Homo sapiens: one gene and its partner. The protein of the gene in region 1 interacts with the protein of each later gene in a pairwise test. Each region holds a gene or a part of one and is shown in the gene's direction. Other genes may lie near its edges.

Evidence for each region.
Region 2: the proteins of CLUAP1 (region 1) and CINP interact in binary tests that used the Homo sapiens proteins (3 or more experiments, as listed by UniProt).

What each region holds. Positions count from the first base shown.
Region 1 is NC_000016.10:3,499,485-3,503,398, forward strand, and holds the start of CLUAP1 (clusterin-associated protein 1), read left to right. Parts: upstream 1-1,519; 5' UTR 1,520-1,583; coding exon 1,584-1,605; exon of another isoform or gene 1,606-2,600; intron 2,601-3,914. UniProt on the Homo sapiens protein: Required for cilia biogenesis. Appears to function within the multiple intraflagellar transport complex B (IFT-B). Key regulator of hedgehog signaling.
Region 2 is NC_000014.9:102,352,692-102,356,505, reverse strand, and holds part of CINP (cyclin-dependent kinase 2-interacting protein), read left to right. Parts: intron 1-608; coding exon 609-738; intron 739-3,814. UniProt on the Homo sapiens protein: Component of the DNA replication complex, which interacts with two kinases, CDK2 and CDC7, thereby providing a functional and physical link between CDK2 and CDC7 during firing of the origins of replication.

The sequences.
Region 1 (3,914 bases):
TTCATAGTGATATCTCATTGTGGTTTTAATATGCACTTCTCTAATAATAGCCTTGATCATCTCTTCATTTGCATATTAGCCATCCATATATCTTCTTTTGTGAAGTAGCTTTTAAAATGTTTTCTCCATTCTCTAATTAGACTGTTTCTCATTATTGAGTGTTGAGAGTTCTTGATACATTCTGGATACACGTCTCTTTATCAGATATGTGTTTTGTGCATATTTTCTTCTAGACTGTGGCTTATCTTTTGTTTTTCTTAATAACACGTGAAGCAACATTTATGGGAGGCCATTGTTTTGGAGCGAGCTCCTGCACAAGGTACCAACGGACCAGACCAAACCAGAATGGAATCGCTAGTGCAAGGTGCCACGTAATCAATGCGAACTTAGAGACAGGCCAGTCTGCCAAAACACAGAAGATTCACTGCAACCAACAAAAGGGGCCCTGTCCACCTAGGCTGGCATAAGGAAGCCCCCTCTGCTTTAACCCAAAGAAATGCATCTGAAATAACCTGATGCCAACCAATCGCTTTGTGCACTACGCTGTTTCCTTGTTCCTGCTCAAGCTACCTTACAAAACCCGGCTGCTGTGCCACGCCTGGCGGGGCATCTCCCCATTTCACACGTGGAGGCCGCCCCTTCCTGCCGTCTCCTCGCGCCCCCATGCAGAGGCTAGGGCTGCCGGGACCCGCGCGGCGCGAGCGGCTCAGGGCCCCTTTCCGGCCTGTTGTGCAGCCCGAGCCGTCTGCGCGTGCGCGAGACCGAGGCCTGGCCTGCCTCTGGGCGCCCACAGTGATCCCGTCCTCCGCTCGGCAACCAGATTCCGACGAGGAGCGCGCTGTGCCTCGGACGGGGGAAGGCGGGCTTCCTGAGTATAGTGCATTTTTTTTTTTTTTTTTTTTTTGAGACAGAGTCTCGCTCTGTCGCCAGGCCGAAGGGCAGTGGCGCGATCTCGGCTCACTGCAACCTCTGCCTGCCGGGTTCAAGTAATTCTTCTGCCTCAGCCTCCCGAGTAGCTGGGATTACAGGTGTGCGCCACCACGCTTGGCAAATTTTTGTATTTTTTGGTAGAGACGGGGTTTCGCCATGTTGGCCAGGCTGGTCTCGAACTCCTGACCTCAAGTGATCCGCCCGCCTCGGCATCCCAAAGTGCTGGGATTGTAGGCGTGAGCCCCCGCGCCCAGCCAAGCATCGTGCATTCTTTATAGAAATGAGGGGGAAATAAGCAATATGGAAAGCGCCTAGCGCAATATCAAGCACGTAGTAGGTACTCAGAACCTGTCACCCAGCGCGAAACGTCCGCAAAGCGTGTAAACAGACGCCCAGAAGCTGGGAAGCTTGCAGCCCTCATAGACGCCGGTATCGCCACGCCCTCTGCCCTCGGCGTCTCAGGAGCGCTCTCTGCCGGCCCGCTCTCCCCGTGCGTATGCACGTGCCGCCGCGTCTTCGCTTCGCTTTTTGTTTGTCCCTGACCGTGCGCCGTCCAAGGGTCCATTGGTTGCCATAGAGATCGTCGAGCGCTGGGCCTGTGATCGCTGAGGGGCGAGCAGTTGCGACCCTGGGCTCCTGGGGACCTGAGCGTTATGTCTTTCCGCGACCTCCGCAGTAAGGCAGCCCCGCGCCCCTGTGACCTGCGGGTCTTCCAGAGATTCAGGGCTCCCGCCCGCCGGGTCCCCTGTGTAGGCGATCCCTGAGGCTTGCGCTGCCGGAGGCTCCTTTCGGGCCTCTGCGCCTCAGGGACCGCCTGACCCGCGGCTGCAACCCGGCCGAGCGTCCCAGGCCCTTCTTCGGCCATTTCTAGCGAGGATGGAAAGTTCTCTATCTGCCACTGGCCGCGTGTGGCTCAGAACGCTTGAAATGTGGCTAGTGCAGATGAATAACTGAATTTTTAAGTGTAATTTATTTCTGTTTGTGTAGCTGCATGCCGCTCTTCGCTACCGTATTGGAAAATGCATGGAGAGTTTAGAGACTATTTTTTGAGTTGGGTTAGCTTAGCGCTTAGAAAACCGAACAGCAGGCCGGGCGCGGTGGCTCACGCCCGTAAGCCCAACACTTTGGGAGGCCGAGGCGGGCGAATCACCTGAGGTCGGGAGTTCGAGACCAGCCTGACCAACATGGAGAAACCCCGTCTCTACTAAAATTACAAAATTAGCCGGGGGTGGTGGCGGGCGCCTGTAATCCCAGCTACTCGGGAGTCTGAAGCAGGAGAATCGCTTTGGAGGTTGCGGTGAGCCGAGATCGGGCCATTGCACTCCAGCCTAGGCAACAAGAGCGAAACAACATCTCAAAAAACAAAAAACAAACCAAAAAAAAAACAACCAGCAACGAAACCGAGGAGAGGAGGCTGGGTGATAATCATTGCGGCTAACATTTTTTGAGTTTTAACGATCTGCCAGGGCCCGCTCTGTGTTATGCGCATTTCATTTTAATCATCTGAACAACTCTGTGCCCCCTGTATTTGGTAGTGAGGAAACGGGCACAGAGAGGTCAGGTAACTTGGGCAGGTGATACAGGCGGTAGGAGGTGGCACTGGGGCTTGAATTCAGGTTGCCTGAACTCCAGACATCCTGAACTCCATCTGCATCCTTTCTGCAGGGCTGGTAAGGAGAAGGGAGCTCGAATTCCTTTGCTAAGAGGGTGGGGAAGTGGAAGAACGAGGCTAAGAGTGTTGGTTACGGCTGGGCGCAGTGGGTCACGCCTGTAATCCCAGCCCTTTGGAAGACCGAGGCAGGCGGATCACTTAATTTCAGGAGTTCTAGACTAGCCTAGCTAACATGGCGAAACCCTGCCGCTGCTAAAAATTCAAAAAATTAGCCGGGCATGGTGGCGCGCGTCTGTAGTCCCAGGTACTTGGGAAGCTGAGGCAGGAGAATTGCTTGATTCCGGGAGGCAGAGGTTGCAGTGAGCCAAGATGGCACCACTGCGCTCCACCCTGGCCGACAGAGTGAGACTGTCTTTAAAAAAAAAAAAAAAAAAGGAAAGGTAGATGATGATTGCCAATTTGGTGTGATCCGAGGGGTCTCTTAAAGCCAGTTTTCTCGTCCAATTGTTGGTGCCTGAAATTTTAGCATTAGAGATTACTCCTTTTGGTTATGAATTGCTCTTTTCTACAATGTAAAAATATCTAGGAAGACGCATTACCTTTTATCCATGCAGCCACTGAGCACCAGAGTGTGAATCCTGCCCTCTGGGGTTTGAAGGTTTTTGGTGGCCACACATCATGCAGGATGACTGTCTCCTCCCACATAGTTTTTAGAGAGGCCAGCACCCTGCCGGGGGACGTAGAATGGGGTTTTGTTGGGGAGCGCACACACGGAGATTTCGGAATATTTTGATCTTAAATTAATGCTCTGCAGTTGTGCAGTGTATGGTAAGGATCTTACTCAAATTAGTGTCTATTTTGACAATAACACCGCAGCATTAACAGAACTTGACTAGTACCTAGTGGTCAGGAGTATTTAGGCAGTGCCTTACTGTGTGAAGGAAAGGCTGCTGCTTTCTTTTCTGTTCTTTTTTTGAGACAGTCTTGCTCTGTCTCCCAGGCTGGAGTGCAGTGGTGTGATCTTAGCTCACTGCAACCTCTGCCTCCCAGCAATTCTCCTGCCCCAGCCTCCCCAGTAACTGGAATTATAGGCGCCCGCCACCACACTCACCTAACTTTTGTATTTTTATTTTTATTTTATTCTTTTCTTTTTTTGAGATGGAGTCTCGCTCTGTCACCCAGGCTGGAGTGCAGTGACGCGATCTCGGCTCACTGCAAGCTCCGCCTCCTGGGTTCACGCCATTCTCCTGCCTCAGCCTCCTAGTAGCTGGGACTACAGGTGCCCGCCACCACACCTGGCTAATTTTTTTGTATTTTTAGTAGAGACGGGGTTTCACCGTGTTAGCCAGGATGGTCTCAATCTCCTGACCTT
Region 2 (3,814 bases), on another chromosome or scaffold:
AATGATCCATGTCTTATTCATCTTTGTACATCCAGCACCATGCCCTATGCCAAGGATGCCACACCGCTGAATGGTGTTTTTTTTTTTTTTGAGACAGTCTTGCTCTTTTGTGCAGGCTGAGTGCAGTGGTGCTATAATGGCTCACTGCAGCCTTGACTTCCTGGGCTTAAGTGATCCTCCCACCTGAGCCTCCTAAGTAGCTGGGACCACATACGTGTCCCACCATGCCCAGCTAATTTTTACTTTTAATTTTTGTGGAGATGAGGTCTCACTGTGTTGCCCAGGCTGGACTCAGACTCCTGGACTCAAGCAGTCCTCCCGCGTCCATCCCTCAAAGTGTTGGGATTACAGGCATGAGCCACCAAAACCGGCTGTCACATGGCTGAATTTAACTGACTTATTTTGGTGCAAAATTGAGTGACCAATGGACATATTCATTGCACATATAAATAATAACTGCATTTGTATCATAATGATATGAAAGAACAATGCTTATGCAAAATGTCCCACGTAACTATGTGGATATAGAGGTTTGTAGAATTTATTATAAGGAAATAAGGCAAGCTTAAAGAGTATATTTTGTACACATTATTTTCTATTTTGTTTAGGAATAAAGACAAGATAGAACTAGACAGCAGCAGCCCAGCCTCGAAGGAAAATGAAGAAAAGGTGTGTCTGGAATATAACGAGGAACTGGAGAAGCTGTGTGAGGAACTGCAGGCCACCTTGGATGGGTTGGTAAGACATAAAGACGCAGGCCACTTGTGGTCACTGTCACTGAATCCGATGGACGTATTTGGGGTTTGCTTGACCATTGGCCATCACTTACTCCTTCTCAGTCTCCTCTGATGTTCTCTTCCTCTGCCTGCTGCGTAAACCTTAATGTTCCCCAAGATGCTGTCTTAGACACTCACTCCTCCTGTGCGTCATCCGGGGAAATGTCACCCACTTTCAGGGCTCATCACATAGTAAATTTTTTTTTTTTTTCCATGATATGGAGTCTTGCTTTGTCGCCCAGGCTGGAGTGCAATGGCGTGATCTTGGCTCACCGCAAACTCCGCCTCCTGGGCTCAAGCGATTCTCCTGTCTCAGCCTCCAGAGTAGCTGGGACTACAGGCGTCCGCCACCATGCCTGGCTAATTTTTGCATTTTTAGTTGAGACAGGGTTTCACCATATTGGTCAGGCTGATCTCAAACTCCTGACCTCAGGTGATCCACCTGCTGGCCTCCCAAAGGGCTGGGATTACAGGCATGAGCTACCACGCCCAGCCACAGAGTAAATATTTTAGGCTTCCAGGGCCAGCCAGTCTCTATCTCAGCTACTCATCTCTGCCACATAGGACTAAACAGCCATAGATAATATATGCGTAAATGGATGTGGCTGCATTCCATGAAAACTTTATCTTTGTTTTTTGGATTTTCTTTTTTTTTTTTTTTGAGATGGAGTCTCATTCTGATACCCAGGGTGGAGTACAGTAGCATGATCTTGGCTCACTGCAAACTCCGCCTCCCAGGTACAAGTGATTCTGCTGCCTTAGCCTCCCAGGTAGCTGGGATTACAGGCTCGTGCCACCACATGAGCTAATTTTTGTATTTTTAGTAGAGACAGCATTTCACCATGTTGACCAGGCTGGTCTCGAACTCCTGACCTCAAGTGATCAGCCTGCCTTGGCCTCCCAAACTGCTGGGATTACAGGCGTGAGTCACCGCACCTGGCCTTTTTTGTTTTTGTTTTTGTTTTTTTTGAGACAGGGCCTCACTCTGCCACTGAGGCTGGATGGAGTGCAGTGGCGAGATCTTGGCTCACTGCAACCTCCGCCTCCTGGGTTCAAGCAATTCTTGTGCCTCAACCTTCCACATAGCTGGGATCGCAGGTGTGCGCCACCATGCCCAGCTAATTGTTGTATTTTTAGTAGAGATGGGGTTTCACCATGTTGGCCAGGCTGGTCTCGAAGTCCTGGCCTCAAGTGATCCACCCACCTCAGCCTCCCAAAGTGTTGGGATTACAGGCGTGAGCCACCATGTTCGTCCAGGAAATCTTTATCTTTGGACACCGAAATTAGAATTTTGTATAATTTTTATGAGTCACAATCACTATTGTCCTTTTGGTTATTTTCAACCATTTAAAAATGTAAAAACCATCTTAGCTTATGGGCCATACAGAAATAGGCTATGGGCCAGAATTGACCTGTGTTCCAGGGATAGTTTGCCCATCCCTGATACAGCACGTAAGAGACTAAAGTGTTTGTTTAATGAACTAATAACTAAATTTCAATACCTACCATACTGGCCACCAGATGTGAAGATAACACCACCTTATTTCTTTGCTAGGCACAGGAAATCAGGTTTTACACATATTTGAACTTGGATAACTGAAGCTTACCCATAAACATTTAAGATCTTTATATTTTCACCTTTTTGTTTGTTTGGAGACAAGGTCTCGCTGTGGAATGCAGTAGTATGATCACAGCTCACTGCAGCCTTTACTTCCTGGGCTTAAGTGATCTTCTTGCCTCAGCCTCCCGAGTAGCTGGGACTACAAGCATGAACCATCATGCCCGGCTAATTTTTAAAATTCGTTTGTACAGACGGGGTTCTCATGTTGGCCAGGCTGGTCTCGAACTCCTGACATGAAGTGATCTTCCCACCTTGGCCTCCCAAAGTGCTGGGATCACAGGTGTGAGCCCTGGCGCCCTGCCTTAGCTTTTCCGTCATGTCTTGTTTTGGCTTCAGGATCCTGTATGACATCGAGTCCCCTTGTTTCCTCAGGCTCCTTTTGGCCGTGACAGTTTCTCAGACTTCCCTGTTTTTGATGACTTTGACAATGTTGAGGGATACTGGTCAGGTATTTTGTAGAACATCATGAGATTTATCTGATGTTTTTCTCCTAATTAGACTGAGGTTACGGGTTTTGTTCAGAGGAGGACCACAGAAGTAAAGTGCCATTTCTATCATGTCATATCAAGGGCACGTACTGGATATACTGTCATCAGGACTTTTCTTTGGGTCCCACCTATTGCCCGGGCTGGTCTCAAACTCCTGGGCTCAAGCAGTGCTCCCACCTCAGCCTCCCAAAGTGCTGGGATTCCAGGCGTGAGCCACTGTGCACAGCCAGGACTTTCCACTGCTGAAGTTGACCTTGATCACCTGGCTGGGCAGTGTTTCCAGGTTCCTCTGCTGTGACGTTGCTCTTTCTCCTCCTCCCACGCTGTGCTCTTTGGCAGGAAGTCACTATGCATAGCCCACACCTGGGGGTAGGGACGTATTCACCACCTGCTTGAGGGTGCAGTATCTACATAAATTATTTGGAATTATTCTGCGTGGGAGATTTGTTCCCTCCCTCCCATTTGTTAATTTTTTTTTTTTTTGAGATGGAGTTTCACTCTTGTTGCCCAGGCTGGAGTGCAGTGGGGTGATCTCTGCCCACTGCAACCTCTGCCTCCTGGGTTCAAGTGATTCTCCTGTCTCAGCTTCCCAAGTAGCTGGGATTACAGGTGCCTGCCACCACACCCAGCTAATTGTTGTATTTTTATTTGTTTTTTTTTAATTTTTGTTTTGGCCAGGCGCAGTGGCTCATGCCTGTAATCCCAGCACTCTAGGAGGCCGAGGCAGGTGGATCACCTGAGGTCAAGAGTTTGAGACCAGCATGGCCAACATAGTGAAACCCCATCTCTACTAAAAATACAAAAAATTAGCTGGGGGTGGTGGCAGGTGCCTGCAATCCCAGCTACTTGGGAGGCTGAGGCGGGAGAATCACTTTCGGAGGTTGCAGTTAGCCGAGATCAAGCCACTGCACTCCAGTCTGGGCCACAGA